Homo sapiens: one gene and its partners. The protein of the gene in region 2 interacts with the protein of the main gene of each other region in a pairwise test. Each region holds a gene or a part of one and is shown on either strand. Other genes may lie near its edges.

The links. Proteins that work in one complex are often made in the same cells at the same time.
Region 1: the proteins of PPP1R12C (region 2) and RBM17 interact in binary tests that used the Homo sapiens proteins (3 or more experiments, as listed by UniProt).
Region 3: the proteins of PPP1R12C (region 2) and BHLHA9 interact in binary tests that used the Homo sapiens proteins (3 or more experiments, as listed by UniProt).

Annotation. Positions count from the first base shown.
Region 1 is NC_000010.11:6,098,650-6,106,301, reverse strand, and holds part of RBM17 (splicing factor 45), read right to left. Parts: intron 5,032-7,652; coding exon 4,915-5,031; intron 1,372-4,914; coding exon 1,205-1,371; intron 162-1,204; coding exon 64-161; intron 1-63. UniProt on the Homo sapiens protein: Splice factor that binds to the single-stranded 3'AG at the exon/intron border and promotes its utilization in the second catalytic step. Involved in the regulation of alternative splicing and the utilization of cryptic splice sites.
Region 2 is NC_000019.10:55,107,074-55,114,725, forward strand, and holds part of PPP1R12C (protein phosphatase 1 regulatory subunit 12C), read right to left. Parts: intron 5,723-7,652; coding exon 5,592-5,722; intron 5,513-5,591; coding exon 5,394-5,512; intron 1-5,393. UniProt on the Homo sapiens protein: Regulates myosin phosphatase activity.
Region 3 is NC_000017.11:1,265,960-1,272,583, reverse strand, and holds BHLHA9 (class A basic helix-loop-helix protein 9), read right to left. Parts: upstream 2,141-6,624; 5' UTR 2,021-2,140; coding exon 1,313-2,020; 3' UTR 769-1,312; downstream 1-768. UniProt on the Homo sapiens protein: Transcription factor, which play a role in limb development. Is an essential player in the regulatory network governing transcription of genes implicated in limb morphogenesis.

The DNA of each region.
Region 1 (7,652 bases), on a different chromosome or scaffold from region 2:
CACATAGTGGAATTGCACTTCCAGTATTTATATATGTTTAAGACATATTTGTTCATGCCTTACTTCTTTTCCTCCTCTCTCGCTCATAATCTTCATCTTCATCAGAATCTGGATCTGGTCTCCTTGCAAACCCACTTGCTTCATGTCTGTCTTTACGCCTTCTGTGATAACAAAGGAAATAAATGTTCATCACAGATGAACCAATTTAGAGACCTGAACCTGGGATGACTTCCTCTTGACCAGAAGATATCCAAATCCTGTCACAATCAACTATGAAGTTGCAGGGGTAGAGGGGGTAGGAAGCATAACTGGTAAAAGACTAAAGTAGATAAAAGTATGAAAAGTGAGAAAAATTCAAGAGATAAATTGAACCAATAAGTATACGAGAGCAACCAGCATGAAAAAAAAGGTTCCTTGACATTGACCTCTTCCAATGTTAAAGCCTATCAACATAGTAATAGTTCAATCATTTCAATAGTCTATAACACTTTCACTCATGAAATGATTCAATAAATGGGAAACAGTATATTAATATTTAATACATGTTAACTATTTGATAATACTAAATATTTTTAAAAAGAACTACAAATACATCCTACTACTCGTACTTTGCAAAAACATAAATAAAAGCTGCATATGAATTTTTAAAAATTCCACCTGGCTCAAAAATAGTAAAGTTAAGAAGAATATTTCAAGTACTTTAAATAGCTGTGATTTTACAAGTTGAGAATCCCTTATTCCAAATGCCTGGGACCAGAAGTGTTTCAAATTTTGGAATATTTGCATTACAATTACCAGTTCAGCATCCCTAAGCCAAAATCCCCCAATGCACATTTCCTTTGAGCGGCATGTTGGCATTCAAAAGATTTTGGAGCATTTCAGATTTCGGATTTTTGAATAAGGGATAGTCAACCTATAGCAGAGTATCAGCATAGAAAAAAATTTTCAACATCAGGTTTATAAGTTATTTTTCTAACAACTCACTCAAAATATACACTTTAGGTCTTCAGTCTACAGGTGAAGTTTGCTGTGATTCTGAGATGTAACAGGTACAAATCGTAAAACAGTTTGATTCCTTGTAGTGACTGCTCAGATCACCCATGACAATTAACTTCAGCCTTACAGACAGCAGCGACGCTCATTCGTTAACATTTTAATGAACATTTCAACTGTAAAATATCCCCAAATCCAAAGGAAGCCTTACTTTTCCCTTTCTTCTATTTCCTTTTGTCTTTCCAGCTCCCGCTGTCTCTGTCGTTCCTCTCTTTGGCGCTTCACTACTTTCTCATAATCATTAGGAAACATAGGGTCATATTCGTCAGCTAAGGGAATCAGAACTTCCCCTGCAGAAAACCCACTGGGAACAGGATCCTGAGGAAGGTAAAAACAGCAGTAAGAATCCTCTTTATATCTTACCAGTTTACTCACAGGATTCAGGTCAAAGCGTATGGGAGATAAAAGGACTCTGAACATCATCTAGCCCCTTCCTCTGTTTTAAAGACAAAGAAAACAAATACCAGACAAGGCCACGTGCCTAGTCAGGTGGTAGCAGAAACAGGACACAAAATTTCACCTCTTAGATTAGTACTATTTCTATAATACTCTATGGCATTTTTCCTGGAATTCCTAAATAAGCCACCACCAGCTAAAATATAAGTTACTAGTACTTTGAGTCAAAAAATTAGAATACTTATAGTAAAGCACTGAATACTTGTTTTTATAGATCTCTATGACAACTTAAAAAATAAAACAACCATGAACACCACAATCATTCTTGCAGTCATCATTTTAACAGAATAACTTCAGATTCTGATTACATGGAGATAAGAATATATGGAGATCTTAGAAAGCATCTTCTTGGTCTTTCTAATCCTCTGAACACATGTCCCTTCCCAGGTAGGCTGCATTTCAGGCACTGAGTTTGACACAAGGGGATGTAATGTCCCTTCCAGCATCATAATTTTTTTTAAGGTTCACTAAAATCAGGTTTAGATAACACTTCGTGTTTTCTCGTCTATACATTCAGAAACTTGGTCTACTCTTTGAAAGAAAAGAGGTAGCCATGACAAAGAAATTAGCAAAACGAGAGGCAGAGCACAGCCAGTATACTAGGAAATACATGAGCAGACACAGAACTTTACCCTAGGCTGGCAGCCTCGGTCTACACGTGGTGCTGGAAGCCCTGACCCCACTTTCCTAAACCTTCCCACACTTTCTCCTGTTAGTGTTCTTAGCATAATTCTTCGTTATTATCTGTAACAATAAGATGCCTTCTCTGGTTTTGAAAGACACCTCAAACAAGCACAGGTTAGGATTAGTGTCCCCATTTTTTTTAAAACACACATGCAAAACAACAAGGATTCATGTCCTTGAGCGCCCAGTCTGTACCTCTTACAGGAGGTACAATGTCCAACTGTATCAAAGGCAAGAAGGTCGTTTGTAAACGTGTTTCCTGCTTGAACACAGAACTGACAAAATCAAGACAGCTTACACGCCATATTAACAGACCTAAATCGAACAGTTCCTGTGTTTCATGGTTCGGTGTGACATTTTGCACTATAAAACAAACACTTCACCATTTCCTTACGACGAAATATCAGGAAATGCTATGATCCAATGAATAAGAGCAATTAGGAAAATAACTATAATCACCTCCCAGGCCCTACCCACTGGAAAATGTATTTAATGTAGGGCTCCTAAAGGTTAGTTATACATTTGTATTCATTTTATAAAAGACATTTAAAAAATACAAAAGCACATGAAGATTTCTTTTCAGTTATTATTTAGAGAGAAAATGACAACCAGCCACTCAATTTATCTAACACAATTATCACAACGTGTCTAAGAGAACAAACTGTCAATATGAAGGTTCATTCTCTGACACTTCAAAATTTCAAAGAAAAAAACTTTTACATATAAACCCTGCTATGCTTAACAATGAAATCAATCATCCTTTTCTAAATGCTGCAATGAATAAAGTGATTTGTTCAATTTAAAAAAATTAAAATGTTAATACCCTCAATGCTGAGGGGGGAGGATGGGGTAAAATTCACCCTCATATGCCTGAGGTGATACTGTGCACTGCTGGGAGTAAACTGGTGCCAGAACAGATTGGCCATAAAAATGGCTGATATCTTAATGCCACCTCAGAAAATCTAAGAAAATAACCCTAATTACATAGAAACATCTCTGTAAAGATGTTCATTAGAGGGCCGGGTGCAGTGGCTCATGCCTGTAATCTCAGCAATTTCGGAGGCCAAGGCATGTGGATCGTTTGAGCTCAGGAGTTCAAAACTAGCCTGGGCAACATGGTGAAACCTCATCTCTACAAAAAATTAGTCAAATGTGGTGGCATATGCCTGTGGTCCTAACTACTCAGTAGACTGAGGTGGAAGGATCGCTTGAGCCCAGGAGGAGGAGGCTGCAGTGAGCCAAGATTGCACCACTGCTCTCCAGCGTGGTGACAGAGCAAGACCCTGTCTCAAAAATAAAAACCACAAAAAGATGTTCATTAGAGTGGTATTTATAAAGGCAATGTAAAAGCAAATCTAGGTGGTTTTACAGTTAGGGAATACTTGTGTAAATTATGATGCATTCGCTTAATGAGAATTAAAAACTGATCGTGAAAACTATGTAACAAGGAGGAAAAAGGCTTACTCATTAAATAGGAGACTAATATTATAGGTACTAGAACCAATACACGATTACAGAAGAAACTATGAACCAGTTTTTAAATTAGATGTAGCAGGAATAAACTAGGTATCAAATTTATGGGGGAAAATGCTCAATGACTAGGAATCAGCAAAAAAACACCTCCACCATGTGGTGCTTCCCCTCCAGAAGAACTACCAGCCCTCAGGAACAGCACCCGCTCCCCTCAGAAAAGGACAACTCAAGGGTAAGCTGCAGCCACAGACTGGCCCAGAACATAAGCAGGACAGGCAGGAGACGGAGCCCAACCCAGAACAGTGACGTGAAACAGATGGGCAGGAGTGTGCCCTTTGCCCCAGCCTGATGCAGCCCTTCCCACAGGTGGTGGGGAGGACAGGCGCGCCTTGCTAAGAAACTGTCTCGATAGCACTATTATTAATCTTTTGGTCATTTTTCATCAAGCGGTTTTGTGCAATTCATGATGCTGTTTAAATGACCACAGTCATTATTTGAACGCCATCTGTGGAAAGATAAATGTATACTTAAATTGTGGGTATAATTTTAACTAGTTTATTCACTCATTTTACCTCATTTTGTCTAGTTTTAACTATGATTTTGAGTTATCCTTTTCCAGATCTTCTTCATCCTCAATAACCCAATTTATAGAGTTGACCACATGTTTGTTTTTAAGCATATGTAAAATCACTGGAATCATACAGGTTAGGGTGGTAGAAGTGGGTTTTAAAACCCCTTTCTCTGTTTTAATCCACAATAAATCAGTAAGTACTAACACTGTTTATGATAGCAAAAAATAGAAACAACCCATATATCCAGCATTAAAGGAATTAAATTATAGTCCATCTATATACAAGGGAATATAGTGAAGCCATAAACGTGATCATACAGTCCTGTATTTTTTGACAGAGTCACAACGTATTAAGTAAGAAAAGCAAGTTAGCAGAAGGTGGAGTAGGCACAGGATGGAAAAATATTACGTTTTTCACTTCCGGATTGTATGACTGAAGGTAATTTGTTTTTCTTTCTGCGTATCTCTAGTTTCTGATTTTTCTACAACAAACTATTTAATTTCAAATAGATACATTTTAAAATTGGCAAAACAGAAGTAAAAATTAGGTGGAAAATGATACTAACTTGGTTTCAAAGGCCCACCAAGGAGGCCATCTGTTAAGAGTAACTCATATGCAAAATAAGCCACATGGGAACAGAGACACGTATCAAGCTCACAGGCAGGCGCGGGCTTACCTTCAGCCCAGCTGCTACATGCGGTGGAGTGTCCACAATTTGCCGGTCATCTGAGGAGCCACCTCGCTTCAGGTCAATGACTGGGGCGAGGACTGTACTTTGTTTCGTCCTTTGGCTCTAAAATCATCAAAAACAAGGAAAACATACTGAAGTTTCAAATTAAAATTCACACTGTTTGCAACAAAGATTTTCTTTCTGGTCCCTGCAACAAACCTTTGAGATATGAGAAAACCATAATCTCAAAACAACAGCCTTTTAATTTATTACTATAATCATATATTATTTTCTTTCAGCTTTTTCAAAAACATGAGATTTTCTCCATTTCTGTGAAAGGTTTACAGTAAACTTAGTCACTTTCAAAAGATACTTGGGGATAAGAGTTTTGTTCCCTCCTACTAGGATATAGAATCCTTCCTATCTCCTTTATTATGAATCTACAAAAAAAAGTTTTTAAAAGAAAATCATTTCTATACATTCAATTATTGTTAATGTTCTACCATACTTCTTGCCCTTACACCTGTATTTTTTGCTAGACCATTTGAAAGAAAGTTGGAGACATCATGACACTTCACCCCAATCTCCTGAAACCGTGGACATTCTCCTGTCAGATTACTACCCCTAATAAAATCACTAATTCCCATGTCATTTCCCATCCAGTTCACATTCAGATTCTCCAAGATATCCCAAAAATGTCCTTTAAACAGCTGATTTTTTTTTTGAACCAGGATCCTACCAAAGTTCCTGAAATGCTTTTGGTTTTTAAGTGTCTTGATTAAGAACAGTCCCTCTTCCCCATCATCATCATCACCATCATCTTCATCTCCTCTTCCTTTTTTTCCTCTGACACTATCTTGTAAAATGCTGTTTGTTCTAGATCTGTCTAATAACTACCTGGTTATTTAGTTGAGCTTGTTCCTCTATGCCTTGTAATTCCTGAAACCTGGAGGTTAAAGGCCTGATCGAATTCAGGGTAAAGCTTTTAGGCAGGAACACTTCCCAGGTGAGGCAGTGTGCCCCTTCCTGCAACACACAGCAGGCACACTGCGTCAGGCCGTCTAACAGCAATGCTAAGGTTGATCATATGGGTATGGTGGTAACCATTAGATCTTTTGATTAGAAAGGTTTAATTTTTCTCTTTTGCAATTTAAAGTGTTACAAATTTTCATTACCACTATAAAAGGCACAAAATAAGCCTTCATCTCTCTTGAATATAACAATACTTATAAATTTAAGCAAACAAAATTTAATCCAATTAACAACTCACAAAGTAAATACGAAAGTTTACAGAACGGAAGGGGGATTTATTAGAATCACATATTTTCTTTCTTTCTTTTTTTTTGAGATGGAGTCTTGCTCTGTCACCAGGCTGGAGTTCGATCTCGGCTCACTGCAACCTCCGCCTCCCAGGTTGAAGCAACTCTCCTGTCTCAGCCTCCAGAGTAGCTGGGATTACAGATGCACGCCACCACACCGGGCTAATATTTGTATTTTTATTAGAGATAAGGTTTCACCATGTTGGTCAGGCTGGTCTCAAACTCCTGACCTCAGGTGATCCACCCGCCTTGGCCTCCCAAAGTGCTGGGATTACAGGTGTGAGCCACCACGCCCAGCCAGAATCACATATTTTCTATTATTATTATTTTCTATTCAATATAGAGTTGGCCCTCTGTATCTACAGGTTCCACATCTAACCCCAGGCTGAAAATATTAAGAAAATAAAACAATACAACAAAAAATACAAATAAAAAAACCAATACGGTATAACAACTTTTTACACAGCATTTACATTGTGTTAGGTATTGCAAGCAATCCACAGATGATTTAAAATATGGGAGGATGTGTGTTAGTTACGTGCAAATACCACACCATTTTATATAAGGGACTTGGGCACGCTTGGATTTTGGTATGGGCAGGGGGGTCCTGGAACCAATCCCCTGTGGACACCAAGAAACAACTGTATTTTTTCAAATGGAGATACAAATGAAACCACAGCTTCAAATTTTCTCTACCAAATAAATACCTTTACAGGTTTGGCTAGGCCAATCTAGTATTCTGAGTAACTAAACAGCCTAAGAGAATGCAATCTTCACTTCCCTTAAAAAAAAAAACCCACAAAACTAACTGTACATAGCAATCTCAAAAGTTTTATAAAGTTAGTAGAAATAACTTCACAAGCTACCTCAAGTTTTAAAAATCTATATGAGGCCGGGCACGGTGGCTCACACCTGCATCTTCCCTGCAAAGCAAAAGTTACATGAAATCTACAAAGATTTTATAAATGTACTTTTAAAAAAAATTAAAGAGAAAAACGAGGTTTTGCTAACCCTCCTTACATTTGGAATGAAACCTTGTTTTAAAAAAAACACAAAATACTGGCATCCAAAAAATCTAAATTTGGTAATGATGAATTTTAAAAACACAAAAAAACCTCTCTACAATACTGAACAATCAAATGTAAGCACTTCCATGTAAGTATCTATTGATGTGGTAAAGGGAAAAGAAAAATGAGTAGAACTTTTAAGAAAAAAAACCTGTGTATTGGCCGGACACGGTGGCTCACGCCTGTAATCCCAGCACTTTGGGAGACCAAGGCAGGCGGATCACGAGGTCAGGAAATCGAGACCATCCTGGCTTACAAGGTGAAACACCGCAGGCGCAGTGGTGGGCGCCTGTAGTCCCAGTTACTCAGGAGGCTGAGACAGGAGAATGGCGTGAACCTGGGAGGCGGAGCTTGCAGT
Region 2 (7,652 bases):
AGCCCATATGGACTTCAGCTACATAAGGCCATAGACTGCCTTTAAAAAAAAAAAATGTGACCAGGCACGGTGACTCACGCCTGTAATCCCAGCACTTTGGGGGGCCGAGACGGGTGGATCAGCTGAGGTCAGGAGTTCAAAACCAACCTGGCCAACATGGTGAAACCCCATCTCTACTAAAAATACAAAAATTAGCTGGGCATGGTGGCGGGTGCTTGTAATCCCACTTACTTGGAAGGCTGAGGCAGGAGACTTGCTTGAACCCGGGAGGCAGAGGTTGCAGTGAGTCAAGACCATGCCACTGCACTCCAGCCTGGGCAACAAGAGTGAAACTCCATTGCTGCTGTTTTTCACAATAGCAAAGACTTGGAACCAACCCAAATGTCCATCAATGATAGACTGGATTAAGAAAGTGTGGCACATATACACCATGGAATACTATGCAGCCATAAAAAAGGATGAATTCATGTCCTTTGTAGGGACATGGATGAAGCTGGAAACCATCACTCAGCAAACTATCGCAAGGACAGAAAACCAAACACTGCATGTTGTCACTCATAGGTGGGAAATGAACAATGAGAACACTTGGACACAGGAAGGGGAACATCACACACTGGGGCCTGTCGTGGGGTGGGGGGAGGGACAGCATTAGGAGATATACCTAATGTAAATGACGAGTTAATGGGTGCAGCACACCAACATGGCACATGTATACATATGTAACAAACCTGCATGTTGTACACATGTACCATAGAACTTAAAGTATAAATTAAAAAAATAAAAAATAAAAATAAAAATAAAGAAACTCCATCTCAGAGTGAAAAAAATGTGGTAAAATACACACAGTATAAAATTTACCATCTTTTTTTTTTTTTTTTGAGATGCTGAGTCTTGCTCTGTTGCCCAGGCTGGAGTGCAGTGGTGAGATCTCGGCTCACTGCAACCTCCATCTCCTGGGTTCAAGCAATTCTCCTGCCTCAGCCTCCCGAGTAGCTGGGACTATAGGTGTACATCGCTATGCCCGGCTAACTTTTATATTTTCAGCAGAGACGGGGTTTCACCATGTTGGCCAGGCTGGTCTCAAACTCCTGACCTCAGGTGATCTGCCCACCTCGGCCTCCCAAAGTGCTGGATTACAGGCCTGAGCCACCGCGCCCAGCCTAAAATTTACCATTTTAACCCCAATTCAGTGGCATTAAGTAGTCACAATTGGTTGTTGTGCAACCAATCTCCAGAATTTTTTCATCTTGCAAAATTAAAATCGTGTACCCTAGGTCAGGGACAATGGCTCACACCTGCAATCCCAGCACTTTAGGAGGCCAAGGTGGGTGGATCACTTGAGCTCAAGAGTTCCAGACTAGCTTGGGCAACGTGGTGAAACCCCGTCTCCACAAAAAATATAAAAATCATTTTAAAAAATGTGTACCCACTAAACTACTTCCTATTCTCCCCACTCCTCCCAGTCCCTGACTACAGCCATTCTACTGTCTGTCTCCATTATTTTGACTATTCTGGGTACCTCACAGACGTGGAATCAGACAGTAATTGTCCTTCTGTGACTGGCTTATTTTCACTTTTCACTTAGCATAATGTCCTCAAGATACATCTACATTGTGTGTTTTTTGTTTTGTCTTGTTTTGTTTTTTGTTTTGAGACACAGTTTCCTCTTGTTGCTCAGGCTAGAGTGCAGTGGCACGATCTTGGCTCACCACAACCTCCACCTCCCAGGTTCGAGTGATTCTCCCGCCTCAGCCTCCTGAGCAGCTGAGGTTACAGGGATGTGCCACCACCCCTGGCTAATTTTGTATTTTTAGTAGAGACAGAGTTTCTCCATGTTGGTCAGGTTGGCCTCAAACTCCCGACCTCAGGTGATCCGCCCGCCTCGGCCTCCCTAAGTGCTGGGATGAAGACTGAATCATGTCCCACCGCATGGATGGGCCACATGTTGATTTTCCATTCATTCGATGATGGGCACTAGGTTGCTCCTACCTCTGGGCTATTGTGAACGATGCTATGAACACGGGTATATAAATTGCCTTTTTTGTTTTGGTTTATTTGGTTGAGACAGGGTCTTGCCCCCAGGCTGGAGTGACCGTGGTTCACTGCATCTTCCACCTCCCAGGCTCAAGCAATCTTCTCACCTCAGCCTACTGAGTAGCTGGGAGCGTACGTGCATTCCCACGCCTGGCTAATGTGTTTTGTTTTATAGAGATGGGTTCTCACTAGGTTTCCCAGGCTGGTCTCAAACTCCTGGGCTCAAGAGATCCTCCCATCTTGGCCTCCCAAAGTGCTGGGCTTACAGGTCTGAGCCACTGTGCCAGGCCTCAAATGGCCTTTTCCGGCCTGAGCCAGGAGGAACGGGTTTTGGTTCTTGCAAAGAGTCATGCCCGATTCAGCCCCTGAGTCGACTGGGCCAGAGGACTTTGCGGTGTTGGAGGGAGCGGTGGCTCCAGGCCACGAGGTGACTGGCTGAGCAGATCACGTGCTCTCACTGAACCCCAGACCCAGAGAGAGGAAAACAGCAAGTAAGCCAGGGAAAGCGAAGGGGATGGTCGTGCCTGAGGCCGGTCTGTCTTCTCTCCCAGCCCTGCCTGTGAGTGGCTGCCAGGGCCACACTATGGCCAGAGCCAGTCTGGATGCCAGCACCTCGGGGAATTCTGCATCATGTGGGCGTGTCCTGCAGGGGGTGCAAAAGACCCGCCCTCCTTAGAGCTGGGGTGCAGCCTGTGATCCAGGTCCTGCGCACTGCAGCCCCTCTGAGGCTCCTGTGTGGAGCCGGGTGTCACAGGGTGTCACAGGCAGTCGCCTTGTGATTTGGGGCCGCAGAGTCCCACCCCGAGCAGCACGGCTGAGGGTCTTTCCAGTGGCCCCAGTGGTCTTCGTTCCTGGCTGATCCTACAAGCCAATATCCCCCACCAATGTATCCCTCCCAGCCTTCTCCTCACCCCACGGGAGGGAAGAAGCATGGCCCCCTCTGAGAAGCTGATGCAAGTTATGAGCAATTTCTGCAGGAAAATACAACGTCAGAAAGTTCACAGACCCCCTGGAGGCCATTCCCGGCCTCCCTGGGGTCCAAGGGAAAAGGAGGACTGATCCAGACAGAGGGAGCCTAAATCACCCAGATCTGGATCCCTAGCTGGGCCCTGAACCAGAGCGGGAGAGGCTACAAAGAATGTCAAGGAGAAACGCAGGCAACAGTGTAGCATCAAGGTTGGTGCAGTGGGTGAGAGTGTAGCATCAAGGTTGGTGCGGTGGGTGAGAGTGTAGCATCAAGGTTGGTGCGGTGGGTGAGAGTGTAGCATCAAGGTTGGTGCGGTGGGTGAGAGTGTAGCATCAAGGTTGGTGCGGTGGGTGAGAGTGTAGCATCAAGGTTGGTGCGGTGGGTGAGAGTGTAGCATCAAGGTCAACACAGGGGGTAGCGTGTTGCATCCCTACTGTGGTTCTGCAGGAGGTTTTCCTTGTGGCAGGAGATACCTGCTGTGCATCAGGCGAAGATGTACAATGCCTGCAACACAGTCTCAGAATGGCCGGGCTCACGCCTGTAATCCCAACACTTTGCGAGGCCGAGGCCAGCAGATCGCCTGAGGTCAGGAGTTGGAGACCAGCCTGGTCAACATGGTGAAACCCCATCTCTATTAAAAATGCAAAATTAGCTGGGCATGCTGGCTCACGCCTGTAATCTCAGCTACCCAGAAGCTGAGGCAGGAGAATCGCTTGAACCCAGGAGGTGGAGGTTGCAGTGAGCCGAAATCATGCCATTGCACTCCAGCCTGGGCAAAAAGTGAAACTCTGTTTCAAAAAAAAAAAAAAGGCTCAGGAATGGAAAGGCAGGGGTGGGGTGGTAAGAAAGGAAGGGAGAGATGGAGGGAAAAAAACAGGAGGAGAAAGGATAGGAAAAAATGTGTTTATGTCTATACCTGGGAAGAGATCGCAAGGGAGGGACAGAGAGAAGGAACACAAATCTATCAAAAAGTTAAAAGCTGATGATTCTATACTGTATGATTCCCTTTATGTGAAGTGTACAAAACAGCAAATCCACAGACAGAAGGCAGAGAGGGCTTCGTGGGGTGGGGGGGAGGGGGGGGTGCATGGTTGGGGGTGATGGCTAAGCGGTTGCAGGGTTTCGTTGGGGGATGATGAAAATGTTCTACAACCAATGTGGTCATAAATGCCCGACCCCGTGAATAGACTAAAAAGCACTGAAGTGTGCACTTTGGGTGAATTGTAGGGTAGGTGAATTACATCTCAAAAAGCTGTCTAAAAAACAAAAACAAAAAAGAAAAAGCACTGGCGAATCTTAGTGAAAGTCATATGGGTAGTCACATGCTATTGCTTCAACTTTTCTGTAAATCTGAAGCTTTCCCAAAATAAAAAGTTGGAGGAGGAAGGAGACAGAATCCAGGTCCAGGGCTGATTTGACCCACTCCCCATTTCAACCAAAGAGGGGCTCCCGAACCTCAGATCTCCGCCGTCACGTGTCCCACTAGCTAGTCCTCCCGCATGGCTCTCGTGGACCCCTGAACCCACGCGGAATCCTATCCTTTCAGCCTGGCCAGCGGCCCCGTCAGGACAGCCGCGTCAGAAGTCTCGGAGGCTGCCGGTATCTCATTTCCTCGTCAGTCTCCCTTTCCTTCCACACGGTCCCCTGGAGTCTGCCGGGAACCATGCTCACACCCTTCCACTCCAACCCAGCCAGACCCTGACAACCACCCCATGAAGCGGCACCAGTGGTCCTGTTTTAGGAAATCAGGGAAGCAAGCTTCAGGGACGTGCCTGGAGTCACCAGTCACAGGCAGAGCTGGGAGGCAAGCCCAGGACTTTAGAAGACATGCTGGGGACCCAGGGATCCTGTGTGGCCATCACACACCTGCTAGAAGCAACACCCCTTCCCTAGAAAAATGAACCTGGCCAGACACAGTTTCAGGGGCTCCTGGACCCCATATGAAGGCTCCTGGGGTACGATGAGTCTCAGAGGACAGGGAGACCAGTCCCTGGCAACCCCTGCATGCCCCTACTCCCCCCCAAGTAAACGCATCCCCTCCCAGAAAGACCTGCGGCAGGGTTCCAGCAATCCTACCTAACGCACTCCTGGGTGAGTCCCTCCACCCACCCACCCCGCCCCGGCATTCCAATCCCCTCAGTTACTCAGGGGGATTGACAGTCCCAGTTGGTAGGGGTTTGAGTTCTCATCCTGTGCGTGTGCTGGGCTCCAAGCAATCCTGGAGGCAGGCCCCTACACCCCCATTTCACAGGTGAGGAAACTGAGGCACAAAGAAAGACAATCCTAGGAAGCAGGGTCAGCCTCGGTGCCCAGGCCGCCTCTAAAGCTCTCAGCCTGGAGACCACGGGTGAGGAGGTGTCCCCCACCCCACACACAGCACACCAGAGCCCACCTCGGCGGGCGATCTCCGCCTTCAGCAGCCCCTCCATGGCGTCCGACTCGGCCAGGTCCAGGGGCAGGTCCCCGTCACTGTTGACGGCGGCGATGTTGGCCCCGTGGCTCAGGAGGTACCTGGGGGTGGGGGCTGGTCAGGGCTGAGGGTCCAGGCCCCCACCCCGACCAGGTCCTGCCCGGCCCTCCCTTGCCTCACCTGGCGATATCTAGGTAGCCACAGGAGGCGGCCACGTGCAGTGGCGTCCAGCCCTCGTTGTCTGCCTGGTTCACAGTGGCGCCCTGCTCCACCAAGAAGCGCACCACCTCCAGGTTCTCATCAATGCAGGCCTGGGGGTGGGAAACAGCCGTCAGCCGCACCTACCCCAGCCACGGTGTCCCAGCAAGTCGGGACTCCAGAGGGAGCCACGAAAACAGATCCAGGGACACGGTGCTAGGACAGTGGGGAAAATGACCCAACAGCCTCTGGCCACTGGCTGTTTAAGATACGCCTGGTTGCCCAGTGGTCAGGCCGGCCAGGCCTTCAGTGCTCAGTGGAAACCACGAAAGGACTCCTGGCTATCTGCAAACAGGAAGTGAACGGGGAAGGGAGGGGGCTTCTCATCTGGGTGCGGGAACCCCACATGGTACCTGTTAGACACGGCAAAACCCCCGTCACCACCCACAGGTGGCGCTTCCAGTGCTCAGACTAGGGAAGAGGTTCCAGCCCCTCCTCCTTCAGAGCCAGGAGTCCTGGCCCCCAGCCCCTCCTGCCTTAAACCCAGCCAGGTCCTTCCAAGGGTCAAGCTCGGAAACCACCCCAGCAGATACTCTGCAGGAACGAAGCCGTGGGCCCAGGGCTATGCAGGGTGGAGGAAGGCCACCCTGTGCTGGGACAGACTCAGGGGCCTGGGCGGGACTCCCAGAGGGGTGAGACAGCTGCACACCTGTGTGCCTGGGCCCCAGGCTGTCACACTCCAGTTCACTGAGGCCCCCTCTGCACGGGGCCCTGCAGCCAGGGGCTGACACGGGCCACCGTTTCTCATTCTTCCCTTAGGGGTCCAAAACTTGGGGGGACAAAAGCCGAAGTCCAGGGGGTCGGAGGAGGGACTTGCCCCAGGCCTTGTGGACACTGGGTGGGCTCCGGGACCTGAACTGGAGCTGAGGAAGGAGTGAAGCTAAACTCCTAGATCCACGGGATAAATTACCCCCCAAGTCCCTCACCTCTCCAAAGCTGCCCATCTGGAGGAGGCGGGAGGGAGCTACGAGGGCCAAGAGCATGAGGTCATGGAAACTCGGGCTGTGAAGGGGCCGCACGTGCCCTGGGAACGGGATGAACTCGGCTCGTTTATTTCCACCCAGTTGTCATGGCGATAGGGGAGGGGGGCAAGGAGAGCAATGGGCCTTTCCCTTTCAAGGACCTGCCCAGTACAGGCATCCCTGTGAAAGATGCCTGAGGCCTGGGCACCAGGGACTCCAGAGTCCAGGCCCAACCCCTCCCCATTCAACCCAGGAGGCCAGGCCCCAGCCCTTCCGCCCTCAGATGAAGGAGTCCAGGCCCCCAGCCTCTCCCCATTCAGACCCAGGGGTCCAGGCCCAGCCCCGCCTCCCTAAGACCCAGAAGTCCAGGCCCCCAGCCCCTCCTCCCTCAGACCCACGAGTCCAGGCCCCAGCCCCTCCTCCCTCGGACCCAGGAGTCCAGGCCCCCAGTCCCTCCACCCTCAGACCCAGGAGTCCAGGCCCCAGCCCCTCCTCCCTCGGACCCAGGAGTCCAGGCCCCAGCCCCTCCTCTCTCAAACCCAGGAGCCCAGGCCCCCAGCTCTTCTCTGTTCAGCCCTAAGAATCCTGGCTCCAGCCCCTCCTACTCTAGCCCCCAACCCCCTAGCCACTAAGGCAATTGGGGTGCAGGAATGGGGGCAGGGTACCAGCCTCACCAAGTGGTTGATAAACCCACGTGGGGTACCCTAAGAACTTGGGAACAGCCACAGCAGGGGGGCGATGCTTGGGGACCTGCCTGGAGAAGGATGCAGGACGAGAAACACAGCCCCAGGTGGAGAAACTGGCCGGGAATCAAGAGTCACCCAGAGACAGTGACCAACCATCCCTGTTTTCCTAGGACTGAGGGTTTCAGTGCTAAAACTAGGCTGTCCTGGGCAAACAGCATAAGCTGGTCACCCCACACCCAGACCTGACCCAAACCCAGCTCCCCTGCTTCTTGGCCACGTAACCTGAGAAGGGAATCCCTCCTCTCTGAACCCCAGCCCACCCCAATGCTCCAGGC
Region 3 (6,624 bases), on a different chromosome or scaffold from region 2:
CTTCTGTGGGATCCGCACTCTGAGCTAGCTGTGGGGAACCCTTCCCTCTCCTGTTGGCAAGAGCCCAGCGCTCCCCCAGCACCTCTGGGCTCTGGCCCAGCAGGCAGCCCTTGCAATATTAGACCCTTACCCTGAGCCGGGCCAGACACCAGCTCATCTCAGATGCAGGGCAGCTCTCTGGACAAAACTCTCGGGGCAGCTGGCTGTGTCTCTCACTAGCTCAGCAGGCTTGGCCTGAGGCCCCTCTGCCCTCACTCAACCCCCTCCCCAGAATCCTTCCTGGGTTCCAAGTCGGCCCCTCATTATGGGGGCCCTGGCCCACGGTTCCCTGGGAGCTCTTCCTGCCTGTCGCTCGGGGTACATGCACGCAGGACTTACCGGCCCCCAATCCTAGCCCTGCCCTTGGCCTCCTTCCCTGAGACCTGGCCAGAGTCCCCCTTCACTGTGGCTGCTTCCAGGCAGCTCTGCAGGGAGGTCCAGAGACGGGGCTGACCCCATCCTTAGACTCCCAGGCCCCGTGACCCCTCTCCTGATATCCTCTTCCACCCCAGGGGACTCAGGGAGGAGGGGTCTCTGGATGTCTCTTTCCTCCCCTTGGGCTCCCACAGTGCTCAGCCACACCTGGGGTCTTGCCATGAATGAGTTCCCCCAGGCGCCTACCTGTGGGCCTTAGGCCCCGCCCAGCATTCCAAGGAGAGCCCCCAGCCCTCAGGCGTTCCTGCCACCCTGGGCCACGGGGCCCACTGGAGTCGTGGTATCGGAGAGAAATGAGTTTTTCCTTTTATTTGGCTGCTGCCCCTGCCTGCCTCTCCCGGATCCTGCCTCTCCCGGATCAGGCTTGGGCAGCAGCGCAGGCAGGGAAGGGGACTCCGCACTCATGTGCCCACGAGACCACAGCAGGCCCCACCCGCATTCCCACGCTCCCACACCTCCTGCCTCAAAGCCCTCACTCTCCTAAAAGCATCGAGAACACACAGGGCTCGGAGGCGCAGGAGTGCGAAGGCGGCATTCCAAGACGAGTTCGAGTCCAAGATGAGTTCAGGATCCTGAGCCTTTCTGGCAACTGCCTCCCTAGGCTGGGATGTGGGGGCGCAGCCCCAGGCCCCGGAGCTCCTTCTCTCTGCCCCAGGCTGGGATGTGGGGGCGCAACCCCGGGTCCCGGAGCTCCTTCTCTCTGGCGAGCTCCTTCTCTTCCACGCCAGGTCTCAGCCGGTCCAGTTCTGCTCTGTCCAAGACGCCTTTGCAGTCCCGGGTTTTATAGTCCAGCTGCCAGCCCGGCCTCCCTGCAGCCCAGCCGGTGCCTCGAGGCCGGTCAGGAGCGCGGATGGCCCATCCCGGGGGCGGATCGCAGGTAGCCCCGCGGCCAGGGAGGCGGCCCGGCAGAGGAAGCCCCCGGACAGCGGCGCCAGCTTCCCCCGGAGGCCTGTGCTAGGCCCGGCCCCTCGGCCACCGCACTGGGCCGTGCCAGGGGCGCGTGCGGGGGGCACGAGGCGCAGCGGGGCGCGGACGGCACCGAGGGGCGGGCGGCGTCTGGGCGCGCGAGGCTGGGCCCTGCAGGCGGCGGGGGGCTGGCGCCTGTGTCCCCGGTGTCCCCGCGCGCGGCCGGGCCGTGGCACTCCAGGTGTCCGCAGGGCCCGCGGGGCGCGGGGCTGGCGCGCAGGACCAGGGAGAGCGCGGCGATGCGGTGGATGGCCCTGCGCAGCGTGGCGATCTTGGAGAGCCTCTTGCCGCCCAGGTCGTGCCGCAGCGCCCGGCGCAGCGCGTTGAAGGCCTCGTTGTAGTCTAGGATGCGCTTGCGCTCCCGCACGTTGGCGGCCATGCGCCGCGCCTTGGACCGCACCGGCCGCGCGCGCCTCCTGCCCGCCGGCTCCTCCGCCTCGCCCCGGCTGCAGGAAGCGCCGTTCGCCCCCAGCACCCCCGAATCGCCCCCGGGCTCGGGGCAGGGGCCCCCCAAGTCCTCCGCAGAGTCCTCGGCCCCCTTCCGCGCCGTGAGGCCTAGTCCTGGCGCGCCCCGCAGCATGGCCTTCCCGGGCACTCGCCCTCTGCCCCAGCCCCGGCCCTCTGCCCTCTGCCCTCTGCCCACTGCCTTGGCCCGGCTCGCGACGCGGACGGTCCCCGGCTCCTGGGGCTGGACACTCCCGAGACAGGCCCCTTCCAGCTGGGCTTTATGGCACCACGCGGCGCCCCGCCCTCCCGTCCATCCATCTCCCTCCTCCTGCTTTATTATCGGCCTCCAGGTAGGTCGGCGGGGGAGGAACCGAGGGGAAGAAGGAAAGCAAGGAGGGAAGCTTGCAGGTTCTTGTAAGCGGGGACCAGACGGGCAGCCCGGCCACGCTGCCCCGGGGACCTTGCCCTGCCTAGCTCTGGGGCCGCTGTGGGGTGTCTGGGTTCCACATTCTTCCTCCCCATTCCCAGATAAGGTGCTAAGTTTGGCTTCTAGCAGGAGAGCTGATAGGAATAAAAAGAGGCAGAGGGCCGGGCACTGGGGCTCACGCCTGTCATCCCAGCAGTTTGGGAGGCCGAGGCGGGCGGATCACTTGAGTTCAGGAGTTCGAGACCAGCCTGGCCAACAGAGTATATAAAACCCCGTCTACTAAAAACACAAAAATTAGCCGGGCGTGGTGGCAGGCGCCTGTAATCCCAGTTACTCGGGAGGCTGAGGCAGGAGAATGGCTTGAGCCCAGGAGCTGGAGGTTGCAGTGAGCCGAGATCGCACCACTGCACTCTAGCCTGGGAGACAGAACGAGACTCCGTCTCAGAAAAACAACAACAAAAACAACAACAAAACCTTGAAAGTTCTTGTCAAGTCCCGTGGGCAACCACAGAGATGTCACTGAGGAAAAGCATGAGTGTCCCGGCAGGACTCATATGGGAGGCGCAGGGCCCTGCAGGTAAAGCTGACCCAGAGCTTCCGGCTTTTTCAGCTATGGAGGGCGGCTGGCTGCAATTGGGGTTCGGGTTTTGGTTGGGCCTGACTCTCCCTCCACTGCCCTTTGACTCCCCTTCTGCAGGCAGAGCTGGGATGAGTCAGCAGCAGAGGGTGACGGGGAAGATCCCTTTGCAGCCCTGGGTCCACATCAGGGGCATCTTTGGGGTCCAGAGCCCTCGGGCAGCCCCATCTTGTGACACAGCCCTGCCAGGTTATGAACTCAATGAGCAGCCTCTGTCCTCTTCCCCCAGGGATTTGCATTTGAAAGAGGGTCTCAGAAAAAAGATGATGTTTATTCCCAAAGAAAGACCCCCAGTAGAATTTCCGGCATCCACAGCTGAGTTATTTGGAGCGCCTGAAGGCCACTCATTCCCAGTCACAATCCAAATGCCTCTAAGATGCCAAGGCCTATGGCATTGGAATGGGTGTGTGGTTCACATCCATCTCGCCAAAAGAGCATTGCCAATAACCCCATTATTTCAAACTGTGAATTTCTCCATAAAAGAAAATAATAAGGCATTAGGAAGCAGAGTGTATGTATTTACTTCTGTGATTGTCTGCCTTGCCCACTAGGATGAAAGCATCCTAAGGACATCTGTATTTCCCAGGTTCTATGTCCCCCAAATCTGCAATATATGTCGAATTATAAAACAGCTAGAGGCCGGGCGCAGTGGCTCACGCCTGTAATCCCAGTACTTTGGGAGGCCGAGGTGGGCGGATCACTTGAGGTCAGGAGTTCAAGACCAGCCTGGCCAACACGGTGAAACCCCGTCTCTACTAAAATACAACAATTAGCTGGACGTGGTGGCGGGGAGCCTGTAGTCCCAGCTACTCGGGAGGCTGAGGCAGAGAATCGCTTGAACCAGGGAGGCGGAGGTTGCAGTGAGCCGAGATCCCGCCACTGCGCTCCAGCCTGGCGGACAGAGCGAGACTCCGTCTCAAAAACAACAAAAAATAAACCAGAAAAAAAAAAAAGGTCAGTAAAAGCAAAGAAAATGCCCACGCAGCGCGCGTTTCCCGGTGGCGTTTCCCGGCCGCTCCCGCCCTTCCCCGCGCACGTCAGGAAACGGCCCCACGCGAAGAACCCCGAGGACCCGGGAGAGGCGCCCCCTCCTGGAACCCGGGACTCCCGGGCGCTGCGGGGCGCGGCCGACTTCAAAGCGAGCGGCGGGCCCGGCATTTCCGCGGCACCTGCCCGTGCCCGGGAGCGCGAGTTCTCGGCCCGGGCGGGGGCGGGCGGGGGCGGGCGGGGCGCCGTGATTTAGGGTCTGGCGGTTCCGCCGGCGGCCGCGTAGGTGCCTATTAGCGCCGGGCGGGGCCTGGGCTTCAAAAGTTCCGGCTCTTCCTCCGGAAGTTCCGGCGCCGCTCCCCGAGGGAGGACGGAACGCCCGCCCGGGAGAGAAAGTCCGGGAGCCGCTCACGGGGGCCTCGACCCCACCCCCTCCGGAGAGCGGGTCCCGGGAAGCCCTGAGCCTCCTTCTCTCCCAGGCGAGACCCTGGCGTTTCAACCCACACGCCCGGTGTGGAAGACGTAGGGGCGCAATTGCAGCCTCTGCCCCTTCATGCGCTCATTCAACAAAAACTTTTTTTTTTTTGAGACCGAGTCTCGCTCTGTCGCCCAGGCTGGACCGCAGTGTCGCAATCTTGGCTCACTGCAAGCTCCACCTCTCGGGTTCAAGCGATTCTCCTGCCTCAGCCTCCCGAGTACGTGGGATTACAGGCACCCACCATCGTGCCCAGCTATTTTTTGTATTTTTACCAGAGACGGGGTTTCACCATGTTGGCCAGGATGGTCTCGAACTCCCGGCCTTAAGTGATCCGCCCGCCTCGGCCACCCAAAGTGCTGGGATTACAGACGTGAGCCACCGCTCCCGGCCCTGAACTGGATTTCAAAGGATGAATAGCAGTTTGCCAAGCAGACAGGAGGTAGAGGGAACAGCAGGTGCCAGGCCCTGGAAGTGTAAGCGGTCACAGGATGATGCGAAAAATACAGGAAAGTGACTTTGCCAAACCACCAAATGTGAGGCCAGGGAGTGACGGGAGATAAGGCTGGAGATCACCAGGCGTCGTCCCAAAAGCTTGCTTTTCGCCCTGTAGGCAGCTGGGTACTGCAAAAGGTTATTAAGCAGAGGAATGTCAGCCGTATTTGAATTACAGCTAGAGCTCTTTGAGCAGTGTGGAGAATGGATGTTAAGACAAATTCCACTTAGGAAGCAAGGATCCTGGAGGAAGGGGGGGCCTGAGCTATGCAGGCAGTGGTGAGAGAAGGGCACGGAGTCAACACCTGTTTGGAAAATAGAATTGACATGTGGGGGTGCCAATGGGATAAAGCAGATGACAAAAAGGGGTGTCGTCTCCATATTCTCCTTTAAGAGCAGAAGCCTTAGTTCAGAGACTCTCTCTACAAAGGTCCAGCCATGGACATGGGGACAAGAAAGCCAGTGGCATATGGTCACCTCAGACCCAGGGCACCCACGACTTCGGTTATTTTTTTTTTTTTTTTGAGGTGGAGTCTCGTTCTGTCTCCCAGGCTGGAGTGCAGTGGCGAAATCTCGGCTCACTGCAACCTCCACCTCCCGGGTTTAAGCGATTCTCCTGCCTCAGCCTCCTGAGTAGCTGGGACTACAGGCGTGTGCCGTGGTGGATGTTTTTGTTATCACTGTTTGCTATGTGGCATTTGAACAGCCTTCCTATCTGGGGAGAAGGGAGCCTCCATGGTGGGGCTCTGGGTGGCAGAGATTTCTGGTAACTGGGACAGATGCGAGTCCAGGCACTTGGCTGCCTGACTTGAATCTGGAGTGGTGTCCCAAAGAAACAAACAGGTAACAGTGGAGAAATCACGGTGCCAGTGCGGGGCCTGTGGCCCTCCACGTCCTACACTGGCATCTAGAGGAGGTTCCTGGCTTGGCCGTGGGTCTAGCTGCCCAGTTTCCTATAATTCTTACGAGTTTCCCAACCTTAATTTCCCAGACTCTTTTCTTTTTTCTTTTTGAGACGGAGTCTCACTCTGTTGTGCAGGCCGCAGTGCAGTGGCGCGATCTCGGCCCACTGCAACGTCCGTGTCCCTGGGCAAGCAATTCTCCTGCCTCAGCCTCCTGAGTAGCTGGGATTACAGGCGCCCGCCACTACGCCCGGCTAATTTTTTGTATTTTTATTAGAGACAGGGTTTCACCATGTTGGCCAGGCTGGTCTTGAACTCCTGACCTCAAGCGATTGGCCTGCCTCGGCCTCCCAAAGTGCTGGGATTACAGGCGTGAGTGACTGTGCCCTAGACTTTTTTTCCGTTGATTTTGTGAGCTACCTCAGAGCCAATACCTGCCTCTTCCTTCTGCTCAAGTTGGATTTGGTTGTTTCCAACCAAGAATCCTGACAACACAGCGTAGAGATAAGCAGTCATCCTGGTCAACCTCGCTGACTCCCAAGCCAATCCCAACTTCAAGAGGTGCAGCAGGTGACTTAACCTCTCTGACCCTCACTCTGTTTCTTCATCTGTAAAATGAATTGGTAACTGCCACATAAGAGAGCTGTGAGCATTAAATGACACCATGCACAGAAAGCCCTTAGCACGGTACCTGGCACATTGTGGGCACTTAATAATTAGTTATGATCAGCTGGGCGCGGTGGCTCACGCCTGTAATCCCAGCACTGTGGGAGGCCGAGGCGGGCAGATCACCTGAGGTCAGGAGATCGAGACC